Homo sapiens: one gene and its partner. The protein of the gene in region 1 interacts with the protein of each later gene in a biochemical or structural test. Each region holds a gene or a part of one and is shown on either strand. Other genes may lie near its edges.

Evidence for each region. Proteins that work in one complex are often made in the same cells at the same time.
Region 2: of the proteins of NUCB1 (region 1) and FAM20C, one has a biochemical effect on the other in vitro, tested with the Homo sapiens proteins (one study listed by IntAct).

What each region holds. Positions count from the first base shown.
Region 1 is NC_000019.10:48,910,297-48,917,320, forward strand, and holds part of NUCB1 (nucleobindin-1 precursor), read left to right. Parts: intron 1-633; exon of another isoform or gene 634-852; coding exon 853-956; intron 957-2,714; coding exon 2,715-2,900; intron 2,901-3,177; coding exon 3,178-3,268; intron 3,269-7,024. UniProt on the Homo sapiens protein: Major calcium-binding protein of the Golgi which may have a role in calcium homeostasis. Acts as a non-receptor guanine nucleotide exchange factor which binds to and activates alpha subunits of guanine nucleotide-binding proteins (G proteins).
Region 2 is NC_000007.14:195,547-202,570, reverse strand, and holds part of FAM20C (extracellular serine/threonine protein kinase FAM20C precursor), read right to left. Parts: intron 7,018-7,024; coding exon 6,839-7,017; intron 5,439-6,838; coding exon of another isoform or gene 5,071-5,438; exon of another isoform or gene 1,888-5,070; intron 1-1,887. UniProt on the Homo sapiens protein: Golgi serine/threonine protein kinase that phosphorylates secretory pathway proteins within Ser-x-Glu/pSer motifs and plays a key role in biomineralization of bones and teeth.

The sequences.
Region 1 (7,024 bases):
CAATCTCTTGATCTTGTGATCCGCCCCCCTTGGCCTCCCAAAGTGCTGGGATTACAGGCGTGAGCCACCGCACCCAGCCTTGTTTGTTTTTTTTAAAGAGTGGTTGAGGCTGGGCGTGGTGGCTCACACCTGTAATCACAACACTTTGGGAGGCCGAGGTGGGTGGATCACCTGAGGTCAGGAGTTCAAGACCAGCCTGGCCAACATGGTGAAACCCTGTTTCTGTTTCTACTAAAAATACAAAAATTAGCCGAGTGTGGTGGCATGCACCTGTAGTCCCAGTTACTCGGGGCTGAGGCAGGAGGATTGCTTGAGCCTGGGAGGCGGAGGTTGCAGCGAGCCGAGATCCTGCCACTGCAGAGTGAAACCCTGTCTCAAAAAAAAAAAAAAAGAAGGAAAAGAAAAAAAGAAATGGTTGAGTGTCATGGTTTTTGGATGTCCAATGGCTGGTTCCCATCCTTGCTCTGCCACTTGCTAGCTGGTACCCTAGACCAGTCACAACCCCTCAAGGGGTCTCAGTTTTCACATTCATAAAATGGGGATAATCATAAAACCCTTGTTGTCAGGATTTTGTGGAAAGTGAATGAATTAATACAGTTAAAGTGCTTAGGGCATGGCCTGGCATCTAGTAAGTAGGCACTACATGTTAGTTTTTATTATGGTTATTATTGTAAGCATCAGACTCAGTCGTGGGATCACCTCCTCCAGGAAGCCTTCCCTGATTGCCCCAGGTTCAAGCTGTCTTCTGGGCTTCCCTAGTGCTGTCCGTGACTTCTTTGGATCATGTCTGGCCCAAGATGGGGGTTCTGAAAGAACATGCCCTCAGGTGTTGGACTCTTCCCTCTCTTCCAGATGTACAGGTGGATCATCTGAATCTCCTGAAACAGTTTGAACACCTGGACCCTCAGAACCAGCATACATTCGAGGCCCGCGACCTGGAGCTGCTGATCCAGACGGTAATGGGAGTGGGTCCGGAGGCAGAGGATTGAGGGTAGCTTTGCGGAAGGGGAGAAGGGGACAGAGTCCCAGACGTGAGCCAGCTCACCATTCCTGCTGGTGTTCTCTGAGGTTGGAGGCTGGTAGAGGGCTGAGTCGTTTCTTTTCTTTTCTTTTTTTTTTTTTTTTTGAGACGAAATCTCGCTGTTTTCCCCCAGGCTGGAGTGCAATGGCACAATCTCGGCTCACTGCAACCTCCGCCTCCCGGGTTCAAGCGATTCTCCTGCCTCAGCCTCCCGAGTAGCTAGGATTACAGGTGCCTGCCGTCACGCCCAGAAAATTTTTGTATTTTTAGTAGAGACAGGGTTTCACCATGTTGGCCAGGCTGGTCTCGAACTCCTGACCTCAGGTGATCCACCCGCCTCAGCCTCCCAAAGTGCTGGGATTACAAGTGTCAGCCACCGCACCCAGCTCTTCTTATAGTGATACCCACCGTAATCTAGCAGGCCATCATCTTAACTAATTACATCTGCAAACACTCTATTTCCAAATAAGATCACATTCTGAGATTCCAGGTGGACATGAATTTGGGAGTGTGGGGGGAGTATACTGTTCAACCTGGTATTGTTAACTCCATTTTACAGAGGTGGAAACTGAGGCACAAAGAGGCTGAGTAACTTGCCCAGTGTCACAGAGCTTATGAGATTTGGTCACAAAGCAAAGCCTAGATTTGAACGCTGGGCAAAATAGTTAGAAACCTCTTGTTCTTTTTTTGGTTTATTTTTACTTTTTTTTTTTTTTTTTTTACCTGAGACAGCGTCTTGCTCTGATGCCCAGGCTGGAGTGCAGTGGCATGATCACAGCTCACTGCAGCCTCAACCTCCTGGGCTCAAGCAATCCTCCCACCTGACCCTCCTGAGTAGCTGGGACCAGAGGTGCAAGCCACCGCACCAGGCTAATTTTAAAAATTTTTAGTAGACACAAGGTCTCGCTGTGTTATGTGAGTTAGTCTTGAACTCCCGGGCTCGAGTGATCCTCCCACCCTAGCCTCCCAAAGTGCTAGGATTCCAGGCGTGACCCACCTCTCCTAGTCTGACCTTATGTTCTTGGCCACCTAGCTGTACCTGAAATACATAAATACTAAGTTCACCACATATGTTGTTCCTATTTACTTATTCCTCCAAGATCTGGAGATTGTGGAGGACTTGAAAGAGGTGGGTTGAAGTTGCTATTGTATAACCGTCCCAATCTGTTTTGAATAAAGAGAAGAAAGTGTGTTATGGGGCAGGAGCAGTCATGGAAACCAAAAAGGGCGACATCAGGCTGTGCGCGATGGCTCACGCCTATAATCCCAGCACTTTGGGAGGCTGACGTGGGCGGATCACCTGAGGTCAGGAGTTTGAGACCAGCCTGGCCAACATGGTGAAACCTCGTTTCTACTAAAAATACAAAAATCAGCTGGGCCTGGTGACACATGCCTATAATCCCAGCTACTCGAAAGGCCGAGGCAGGAGAATCACTTGAACCCGGAAGACAGAGGTTGAAGTGAGGCAGTGAGCAGAGATTGTGCCACCGCACTCCAGCCTGGGCAACAGAGCAAGACTCCCTCTCAAAAAAAAAAAAAAAAAAAGGGACATTAGGACACGAGACGTAAGAAAGACAGGTAGAGGCTGGGGCTGCCCTCAGCCAGGTTCAGGGCCAAGGGCCTGCCATTTACAGGCTGGAATTGGGGGCTGGGCAGAGGGGGCAGAGGGGAATGACCCTGTGCCTTTCCCCAGGCCACCCGGGACCTTGCCCAGTACGACGCAGCCCATCATGAAGAGTTCAAGCGCTACGAGATGCTTAAGGAACACGAGAGACGGCGTTATCTGGAGTCACTGGGAGAGGAGCAGAGAAAGGAGGCGGAGAGGAAGCTGGAAGAGCAACAGCGCCGGCACCGCGAGCACCCTAAAGTCAACGTGCCTGTGAGGACCCCATTTGTGCCCATCCACTCCCTACCACATCCAGTTCAAACGCAAGACAAGAAAGCAGTTAAAGAACTACAATTCCCAGGGGCCCTTGAGGCAAAAAAACTCCCTGTTACTGTACCTGGCTGCCCCAGGGTCTGCTGGGAGTTGTAGTTTTCTTAGTTTTCTTGCTTGAGGGAGATGATGTTTGTTGGATGAGGGTAAAGGGATATTTGGTTTTATCCCATGGCATCCAGACTTCTTGCTCATGAGCTCCTGGCTCTCCCCTCCACAGGGCAGCCAAGCCCAGTTGAAGGAGGTGTGGGAGGAGCTGGATGGACTGGACCCCAACAGGTTTAACCCCAAGACCTTCTTCATACTGCATGGTAAGGTGGGGAGGGAGTTCCAGAGCCAGGATGAACCCTAGATTCTGACCCTTCTAGGACCTGAATGCTAAGAGGGGTGTGTCTGTCCCAGGAGGGCTTAGTCAGGCCCAAGAGCCAAGCCTATGTCCCCTGGTTGACCAGACAGCCCTGCCTCTCCCGACTACAAGGCTAGGATCTGCATGGAAGGGTTGGGCCTCTTTTCTAGCAAACACCAGACCTCGGGGTTCTAAGGACAGCTGGTGTCCTCTGTAAGCAAACCAGGCTTGGCTAGGCCTGGGCCCTCTGCCCACAGCAGCCCAGGAGAAGCCCTGGTCCACTCTGGGAACCCTGTCGCTAGGAGTGGGTTGTTCCCTAAGAACCAGGCCTCCAGAAGCCTGGAAAACCCTTTCTCTTTTTCTTTTTCCTTTTTTTTTTTTTTTTTGAGATGGAGTCTTGCTCTGTTGCCCAGGCTGGAGTGCAGTGGCATGACCTCGGCTCACTGCAACCCCCTGCCCTCCGCCTCCCGGGTTCAAGTGATTCTCCTGCCTCAGCCTCCCGAGTAGCTGGGATTACAGGCATGCACCACCATGCCCGGCTAACTTTTGTATTTTTAGTAGAGATGGGGTTTCACCATGTTGGCCAGGCTGGTCTCGAACTCCCAACCTCGTGTGATCTGCCCCCTCAGCATCCCAAAGTGCTAGGATTACAGGCGTGAGTCACTGCGCCCGGCCTCGAAAGCCCTTTCTCTATGGTGGATCAAAGGCACACTCCCCTCAGTCTGTCTCTTCCTGTCTGGAAATGTGGCCTGGGGTTGCCAAGCCCCCTCAGGTATGCCAAGCACCCTGTCCCAGAATCTGTAGCCGGTCAGATAAGCTTAGCAAGGCCTGACTCATTCATTCAGCAAACCTTTCCTAAGTTCCCTCTAAGGACCAAGCTTTGTCAAGACCCCGTGGATACAACTGTAAACAAAACAAAGTACCTCCCCCTCAGAGCCAGTGATCAGGCACACAGATCATACCATACTTTAGTAACTCCACGAGACTGTACAGTATGAGAGGTGCTAGCATTTTACGTAAGCTGCCAATTAAATTAACGTACCATTGAAAACAAGATGCGTCCTGGGCTGGGTGTAGTGGCTCATGTCTGTAATCCCAGCACTTTGGTAGGCCAAGGTGGAAGATGGCTTGAGCCCAGGAATTTAAGACCAGCCTGGACAACAAAGTGAGACCCTGTCTCTATTTAAAAAAAAAAAATAGACCAGGCGTGGTGGCTCACGCCTATAATCCCAGCATTTTGGGAGGTTGAGGTGGGAGGATCACCTGAGGTCAGGAGTTCAAGACCAGCCTGGCCAACATGGTGAAACCCCATCTCCACAAAAATACCAAAATTAGCTGGGCATGATCGTGAGTGCCTGTAATCCCAGCTACTCAGGAGGCTGAGGTGGGAGAATCACTTGAACCCGGGAGGCAGAGTTTGCAGTGAGCCAAGATCGTGCCATTGCACTGCAGCCTGGGTGACAGAGCAACACTCCATCTCAAAAAAACAAAGAAAAAAATAAAAATTAAAAGTTAAATAAATAAAGATACATCCCTATTTCAGGGGTGATAAAATAGAAGAACACAAAAGTGCATCTCAGAATCAACGAAGGTTCTAGGCCGGGTGTGGTGGCTCACGCCTGTAATCCCAACACTTTGGGAGGCCTAGGCGGGTGGGTCCCTTGAGGCCAGGAGTTGGAGACCAGCCTGGCCAACATGGCAAAACCCAGTCTCTACTAAAAATACAAAAATTAAAAAACAAAACAAAAATTAGCCAGGCATGGTAGTGCTCACCTATAGTCCCAGCTACTCAGGAGGCTGAGGTAGGAGAATCGCTTGAACCCGGGAGGCGGAAGGCGGGGGTTGCAATGAGCTGAGATCACACCACTGCACTCCAGCCTGGGCAACAGAGTGAGACTCTGTCTCAAAAAGCAATAGAAAGTAAAAAAGAATTAGAAGATTCTGTAATGGGGTCTCAGGTAGTGACGTGTACTACCTCGCAGCCTTGACCACCCAGGTTCAAGTGATCCTCCCCCTCAGCCTCCCAAGTATCTGGGACCACAGGCACGTACCACTATGCCTGGCTAATTTTTTTAATTTTTAGTAAAGGCAAGGTTTTACCATGTTGCCCAGGCTGGTCTCAAACTCCTTTGCTCAAGCGATCCACCTATCTTGGCCTCCCGAAGTGCTGGGGTTACAAGCATGAGCCATCCCACCGGGCACCACCCCCCGTGTTTTGTTTTGTTTTTTTTTTGAGACAGGATCTTGCTATGTTGCCCAGGCTGGAGTCAAACTCCAGGCCTCAAACAATCCTCCTGCCTCAGTCACCTGAGTAGCTGAGACTGCAGGTGTGTGCCACTGCGCCCAGCTTTAAAGATGTTTAATTGTACAGTTCAATAGTATTAAGTATATTTACACTGTCATGCAACCAATTCTGAGAGCTCTTCATCTCGCACAACCGAAACCGTATCCATTAAACCACTCGCCCTCCCCTTCTTTCCCCTGCTCTCTAGCAACCACCATTCTATTTTCTGTCTCTATGATTTTGACTATTTTAGGTACTTCATGCAAGTAGAATCTTTTGGTATTTGTCGTGTGTGTGTGTGTGTGTGTGTGTGTGTTTGGCTTATTTCACTTAGCATAATGGTGAGGAACTGAAGTTTTCATTCTACTGGATATTAATTTCTATTTCAATTGCCCCATGTGGCTAGTGGCTGCTGTACTGGAGTCCCAGCACAGCTCTAGAGAGGACATTTGGGCTGGATGCGGTGGCTCACGCCTGTAATCCCAGCACTTTGGGAGGCCGAGGTGGGTGGATCCCTTGAGTCCAGGAGTTCAAGGCCAGCCTGGGCAACATGGCACAAACCCATCTCTACAAATAAAATACAAAAATTAGCTGGGTGTGGTGGCGTGCATCTGTAGTCCCAGCTCCTTGGGAGGCAGAGGTGGGAGGATCACTTGAGTCCAGGAATTCAAGGCTGCAGTGAGCTATGATCATACCAGTGCCCTCCAGCCTGGGCAACAGAGTGAAACCCTGTCTCTAAAAAATAGAAAATAGGCTGGGCTCAGTGGCTCACGCCTGTAGTCCCAGCACTTTCGGAGGCCAAGGCAGGCAGATCAGGAGCTCAAGAGATCGAGACCATCCTGGCCAACATAGTGAAACCCCGTCTCTACTAAAAATACAAAAATTATCTGGGCATGGTGGCACGCACCTGCAGTCCCAGCTACTCAGGAGGCTGAGGCAGGAGAATCACTTAAACCCTGGAGGTGGAGGTTGCAGTGAGCTGAGATCATGCCACTGCACTCCAGCCTGGCAACAGAGCGAGACTCTGTCTCAAAAATAAATAAACAAATAAATAGGCCCGGCGCAGTGGCTTACCCCTATAATCCCAGCACTTTGCGAAGCCAAGGCGGCTGGATCCCTTGAGACCAGGAGTTCAAGACCAGCCTGGGCAACATGGCAAAACCCCATCTCTATGAAAACAAATACAAAAATTAGCTGGGTGTGGTGGCGTGCATCTGTAGTCCCAGCTACTTGGGAGGCTGAGGTGGGAGGATCACTTGAGCCGAGGAGTTCAAGGCTTCAGTGAGCTACGATCACACCATTGCACTCCAGCCTGGGTGACAGAGTGAGACCCTGTCTCTAAAAAATAAAAAAATAAAAACCTTATTTAATCTTTTTAATCAGGCAGTCCCTACAGACCAGAATAGGTTCAGAGCAACTCCCTATACCTTTTTTTAT
Region 2 (7,024 bases), on another chromosome or scaffold:
AGCAGCTACCCGTCCTCTCTATGCACACGGGAAGATGTCCACAAGCCCCATTCCCCAGTGCAATCTCACCCAGCAGCCACCCATTCTCTCTATGCACATGGGAAGATATCCATAGCGCCCCCCCATTCCCCAGTACAATCCCACCCAGCAGTCACCCGTCCTCTCTATGCACACAGGAAGATGTCCACGGGCCCCATTCCCCAGTGCAATCTCACCCAGCAGTCACCCATTCTCTCTATGCACACTGGAAGATATCCATAGGGCCCCCCCATTCCCCAGTACAATCCCACCCAGCAGCCACCTGTCCTCTCTATGCACACGGGAAGATGTCCACAAGCCCCATTCCCCAGTGCAATCTCGCCCAGTGGCCACCCGTCCTCTCTATGCACATGGGAAGATGTCCACTGCCTTTCAAATAGGTTCTCCCCATCTGGAACGCTCTCCCCTTCCTGCCACCTGCCCTGAGCACCTCCCACCACTTAACCCACCAACTTTAGACCAAAGGTGACAGTCTGCTTCTTCCCCGGCCTCGCTGAAGAATCCTATCGCCCGGATATCCGTCAGTATACAGGACTCATTCCTATTGATTCATCATTATTAATCTACGTCACTAGTTAACATGGCTAGTTAATGTGATTAACGTGCACTAGTTACACAAGTTAACATGCACGAACAGAGTGCCCTGTGCCTTCATTATTTCATGTTGCTGTCAGCACTAAGAGTTCGGGGCCACACAGACCCTCGGACGCCACTGGGTTTTGCCCACAGTCTCTCCCCGGGTCACAGCACGAGACAGAGGCGATGTTCGTATGCAGTTGCCTCCTCAGAAGGACTCCAAGAGATGCTGGCATTTCTTATGAAATAAGCGTCTTACATAGAAAGATGGCTGCTGTCACAGAAATACTAATGGACTTTGGTGCCAGGCCCCAATCGGTGTGGCCTTAGGCAAGCCACATAACCCCAGACAGCTCCGGCAACCCACTGGGAAGCTCTAGAAGGAAGAACCCAGAGCAGGTCTGGAGAGACAGGGAGAGACGGCCCTGAAAGAGAGAGGTGTGTGGCCCGGGCCTGGGGGTCCCAACACCCCGCAGGGTGCTCATGGGGATGGAGACTGGGTGCAGCCACCACTCATCCTTGGTTTCTCGTGGGAGCAGGAACCCTTTCTAACAACAACCCCAACCTGACTTTAAATTAACCAGTTCCACCTCCTACAGACCTGTGGACCACAGAAACACATCCAGGTGTGAGATGCTGCCGTCAGCGTGGGCCCCCATGTTGCCGCCTTTGGCCCTGGTCATCTCGTCCGTCAAGAGGGCCAGCGTCTGTCCTTGGGGGTCACGGTCAGGCGGTCCCCCTGCTCTTCACAGCCACTGTCTGGCCTCAAGGGTCAGTTATTCCTGAAGACGAATGGGGACAGCTGTGTGTGCTGGAAGTAGGGCCTCACCCAAAGAGGGCTCAGATGTGGAGAATGTGACACCGGGAGAGCTCAGGTCACCCTGTTCTTCCCACCGCACACATCTCCAAGCCAGAGAGGTCTGCTCGGTGTCCCAGACCCCGGGTGCCCACACCCAGGCTCATATACCCATTCACCCTGGGCACCGAGGGACCTGGTTTTGAGGAAAAGGACATAGTTGGCCAGCAGTGGGCACCCTGGGGCTGGCATCAAGGAGGCTAGAACTGTGGGAACCTACTGCGAGGTAAGGGGCTGGAAGAGCTGGGAGCCTGCACCTGCTCTGGACCTGGATCTGCCAGTCCTCGACTCTCCTGGAGGCCTCAAGTGACAGGCAAGGCCCCATCAGCACTGCCCAAAGTCCCGTCCATCACACACCACCCTCAGGACACTTTCGCCAGAACCGCCTCCACCCCAGACTGTTATTTATTCCACGATTTTCTTCAAGGCCCCTTTTATTTTGAAAGATCTGTTTTTTAAAAGAAAACTGCAGCCTTGCCCCAGTGGGGACCATGTCTGCATCAGAAGGAAAGTCGGCAGGTGCGCATCGGGGCACACTCCTGCAGCTAGGGGGCTGCTGTCTCTGCTCAGCACGGGGAGGCCGGTGCCTGGGTGGCCCCAGGCCTCAGCAGCATGAGCTTTTGCTCCTCACCTTCCACCAGACGGCTGGGAAGGGAGTTGAGTGCGGACTGAGCTATTTGCCGCCTCCTCCAGGCTCCACTTGAAATCGTCCTTTGCAGGTGGTCATTGTCCTTCTTTCAGGATAACCCAAGGTCCCCCAGCCCTGGGGCCATGGGCGTCCAGCTAATTGGGCATCTTCCCTTTTCTCTCTCTAGGCCGGCCGAGCGAGGCCCTGGGACCGTGACCTGCAGGGGCAGTTGCCACCTGGGGTGGGTGGGAGGGGGAACAGTGGCCTTTCTGGAGCTGGCGCTGCCTTCCAAGGAGCCCTGCTCCCAAGGAACAGACACGGTGGCTGTGCCCTCCCAGGTACCTGCAGGCAGCTCCCTCTCGTGGGCTGACCCAGCGGAAGCCCTTTGTTCCTTGAAGCTCACCCGCTGGTTAGTCCTGGATTCTAGCTGGACTCATTCTTCCCCTTTTGGCAGATCAATCAGTGTCAAGAACTTTGGTCCTGCAGAGTCATTTTTCTTTGTTCAGGCATGTTCTCCCAACCACAGTCTTTGTCCCAATCTGGATGGAGCAATTATGAAGTCTGTATTTCAGTCCAGAAGCTGCCCGAATCCTCACATGCCAGTGGGATGTCATTCATTCTTTGCATCCATAATTGTGCATGATAGAAATTTAATTATCGCCAGCCCCAGCCCAAGGCACTGCATGCCCGATTTCAAGCTGAATAGAGGTAGATAATATCCCAAGACTCTTTAAAGGTGGCAATGGCCGGTTACCAGGCAGCCAGGAGCCCAGCTATAAATAAACCTCCGCTGGCCCTAACCAGCTGTGCTGTAGACCACGTGGCGCTCCATGAATTGGATTGGGTGGTTCTGAGCAGGAGAGATTTAATGGAACCGTTCCGAGGGAAGGCTTTGGAGACTCGCAGGCATCGTTCTCCATTACAACAATATTTCTGGGCTCACGTTTAATAGTAAGATGAATGACTTGAGATTAAAGTGAGCACCCAGGGGCCGGACAGCTGAGGGGACAGAACTCAGAGCCTGGAGCACGCAGGTGCTAATCTCGGACAAGCCTCCTGCCCTAAGAGCCTTGGTTTCCCTCGCTGTGGAGCGGTGGTTGGAAGGCAGGGCTGGCCTTTGAAGGCTACCCCTGTTCTTGGTTGCAGGACCTGTCTAGGGGCACCAGGCTCTAAACCTGCCTGATTGGCTTGGCCACGCCAAGGGCCTAGCCAGAGGCTGCTATCTCAAGCAGCTGGGTCTTCACCCAGATCCTCCAACTGGAAGTTCGTACTCAGAAGGGCCCTCGGAACAGCCGTGGCTGAGTCAGGCCAGCCAGGCAGCAGCAAGCGGGGTCAGCAAGCAGGTCAGCCCCCTTCTAGGACAGATCACATCCTCCTGGCCTAGGCCAGCCCTCTTGTGCCGTTCCCTGCAGACCAGGAGACCTGGACCTGGACATGGAGCAGCTCCCATGGCACACTTGGTTCACAGGTGAGGGTCCCCTGCTTCCTCAGGAAGACAGACCTCTTCACAAATGAGAACTCACCTGTGAGCATCTCCAAGCCCAAGGCAGCAGGGAGAATAGGGCCCAGCATCTAGACTGAGACCCTCATGAGGCTCAGGCACCTGCCCAGCCCTGGCTTCCCCAGATGAGAAGGATCAGCCCACCTTGAAATGCTGCTGCTGTACAAAGACCCCACCCAGTAGGAGAGCTTCCCCCAAAATGCTGCAGTGTTGGAGACCCTGCCCAGCAGGTGCGCTGTCAGGCTCCGCTCTCACCTCTTTACTCGTATTTGCACATTTAAGCCCCAACAACCCTGTGAGGCCAGATGTATTTGGGAACTGCAGGTATTTCGATGACAAAGGCACACGTGGTGCATGGTGTGGATCATGGCATGCCCACACGGGTCTAGGGCAGAACCCCATAATTAAACCCACTCCTGTTCCTCAGAGGAACATGTGACTATTCAATGTAACAGAGAAAAATCAGGACTTTTAACTAGCCTCGACAATTTAGGTTTTGCCCCTAAATACGTTCAGCCTGAGTCAGTTTTCGCTAGTGAATGGGTTTTGCTTGGCATTCAGATTTGTAAGTCAGAGTCCAGATTATACCAGGTCCAGATTATAACCTTCTCTGTGTTCTCGGTGAGAAACCAGGTGCTGGAGGCGTTAATCCATTTGCCCACTTCCACTCTGGCTAATGGCTGGCAGAGCCAGGATTCACCCCCAGATCTCCTGGGCCAGAGCCTGCTGTCCTGCCTGGGTGATGCGGCTGTGTCTGCCCATCGTCCTTGCAGGCCCTGCTTGGCCCTGCAGAATGACTGAGCAGCCAGCCTGTCCTTGGACGGGTCCCCACCCCAGAAGACTGGATGAGAACCAATGTGGCCAGCATGGTCTAGGAGGCGAGCGAGCGAGATCAGCTGGGGCAGGCCTTCAGTAGGCACAGGAATTAACCAGGACACACCCAGGCGGAGGCCACACCAGAATCCTGGGGTAGGGATTCCCTGGCAAGGGCTCTGTCCACACCCCTGCAATGTCAGGCAGCCTGGGCACCACTGCCCCGGGACAGCTGGACCAAAGAGGGGTGGCAGTGAGCCAAGCCTAGCTTGTCCAGATGGACAAAGCACTCCTAAGGTGGGCAAAGATGCCCCAGGTCCCAGGGGGCCCCACACTCTCCCTGAAGCTGCTCTGGGAGCTCCTGGCACAGAACTCCCACACCTCTTCAGTGTTGGTGTTGGAAAGCTGACCGGTCGGTGAGGGAGGTGGCGAGCTGCAGTTGCCTGCCAAGGGCCTGGTGGCCTTTGGAATCCACAAAGCCCTCCCTCTGCTCAGACCCTGCCTGTGCACACGAGGGGACTGTTGTGGAAGGCCACGCACAAAGTACTAGTTAATATTTAACAAGCTTGCTCACATGCACATCTCATCCTATCCTTGCATTGGTCCCACGCAGCGAGATCCCACTGGACAGATGGGGAAAATGAGCTGGAGAGAAGCTCATACGGACAGCGGCACTGGGGACTTTCTAACTTGCGTGCTGCTCCTCCCGAACGCCCTGGCTGGTGTGCACGGCTCTCTCATTCCTCTCCCTGCCAAGACGGACCCACCTGGAAGGTAAGCTGCCCGACAGACCCTGTGGAAGGTCCTCAGCCCCTCCCAGTGGAGCCCCCTCCTCTCCACACGGCCTGGCTGGCGTGCACGGCTCTGAAGTGCTCGTTCCTCCTCAGGATCGGGCACTGTGCGTGTGTGTCTCTTCCTGGGGCTGTCAGGTCCACAGAGGCAGCAGATCTCGTTGAGGCTGAACTCATCCTCAACTCCCCACCACCCAGAAAGGGGGTCTGACATGCAGGAGGTGCCAGTAAAATCTGCTGAATGGACAAACATGTTGATCAATGCATCGGATATTTCCTTAATGGCCATGCTCACTCTCAGGGGCAGAAGGGACGTTCTGGCTGTGGCTGTCTGCAGGACTGTTCCCCAGCACAGCTGAAAGCCCTCAGACCGCTGCAGGGGCAGGAGAAAGGCAGCGCTTTCACGGAGGGGGGCCTGGAGGGGGGCAGGGGTTCAGGTTACTCCCAGGCAGCATGGAGGGAAGAGGACTCCCAGCTTGTCCAGCTGATCTCTGTTATGAGGTGAGCTGATCAAGGGGTGGGGAGAGAGCTGCAAGTTCTGTCTCCCCATGACCAGGTGAGTGCCCAGCAAACAACTCAGCACCCGGCAGAGAGAGCCAGAAACAGCCCCGAAGAGCTCAGGAGAACCTACCTGCTGGCCTGAAAGGGGACACCTAAGTCCTGTGTCAGCAACTGGACAGAACCCCAGGCTGCTGGGACCCTTTCAGCACCAAGGTTGCTTCTGAGACACACATGAAGCTAATGCCTGGGACTGCTGGCCTCATCACACAGCGCAAAGAAAGCCCTGCCTTCAGGCTGTCATGGCCTCTGCACCTGCCCACAGCTGTGTGCACCCAGGCCCACTCCCTGCAATCCCCGGGGAGCAGCTGCTCCCACTAAAGGGCCTCAGCCCCGCCCTCACTACCTCTCCAAGCACTGGTGACAAATGGGACCTTCACAAACAATCGCCTACAAGCTGAGAACAATGGCACCAAACCTCCACGCTCAGAAGCTGCAGTGGCATATTTTCCTGAAATCAGCAACTGGATGCCCTTTTTTGTCCAATTCAGCAGATCCCAAAGTACCTGGAGATGTTGCCTTCAAACTCCTCCATCTGGGAGGCCCAGGCCTCCGTCCTGAGCCCTGCCTATGTCTCCTCAGTATGAAACTGCACAGCGCCTTGCTGAGGTCTGACGAAGGACGGCTTCAAAACCACAAGAAGCAGGCTCATGGCTGTCTCCCCACCCAGCCAGGGTCGTGTGTAGAAAAGCAGGAGAGTTCCATGCACACGCTTCCGGTGGAGGGGTCACCGCCGCCAGAGATACCCCTCTATTCCTCTACCCCAGGAGGGAAGGACTCTGTCATCCAGTTGGCACCCCCGGGACCACCCAGGTGAGGACGCAGAGCGCAGTGGACCGGCTGTCCAGGCGTCTCCCCGCTCATCGTGCGGCAGATCAGGAGCACATCCAGTGTGAGAGCACACGAGACGCGAGCCCTCTGTCCCTCCTCGCTGCCCGTGCAGATTGCTGCAGGAGGTGACGCTGCCGTAATGAGCAACGGCCTCCCAGACCTCTCTAACACATAGCCTGCCCCAGCAGCCCTGATGCCACACAGCCGGCACACAGACGGCCCTGAGTGCACCCAAGGACACCTACCCACGCTGGTGATCCTCTGGGAGCTGAGGTCGTGCAGCAGGGCCTCGATGGCCGGGTTGTGTCTGGAGTACAGCTCGTACCGGTTGATACCAATGTGGAACTTGAGCCAGTTGGGATAGGAGTCCACGGCCGCCTCCCCGGGGGAGAGGAATTCTGCACCTTCAGCACCCGCATGCGGCCTGCAGG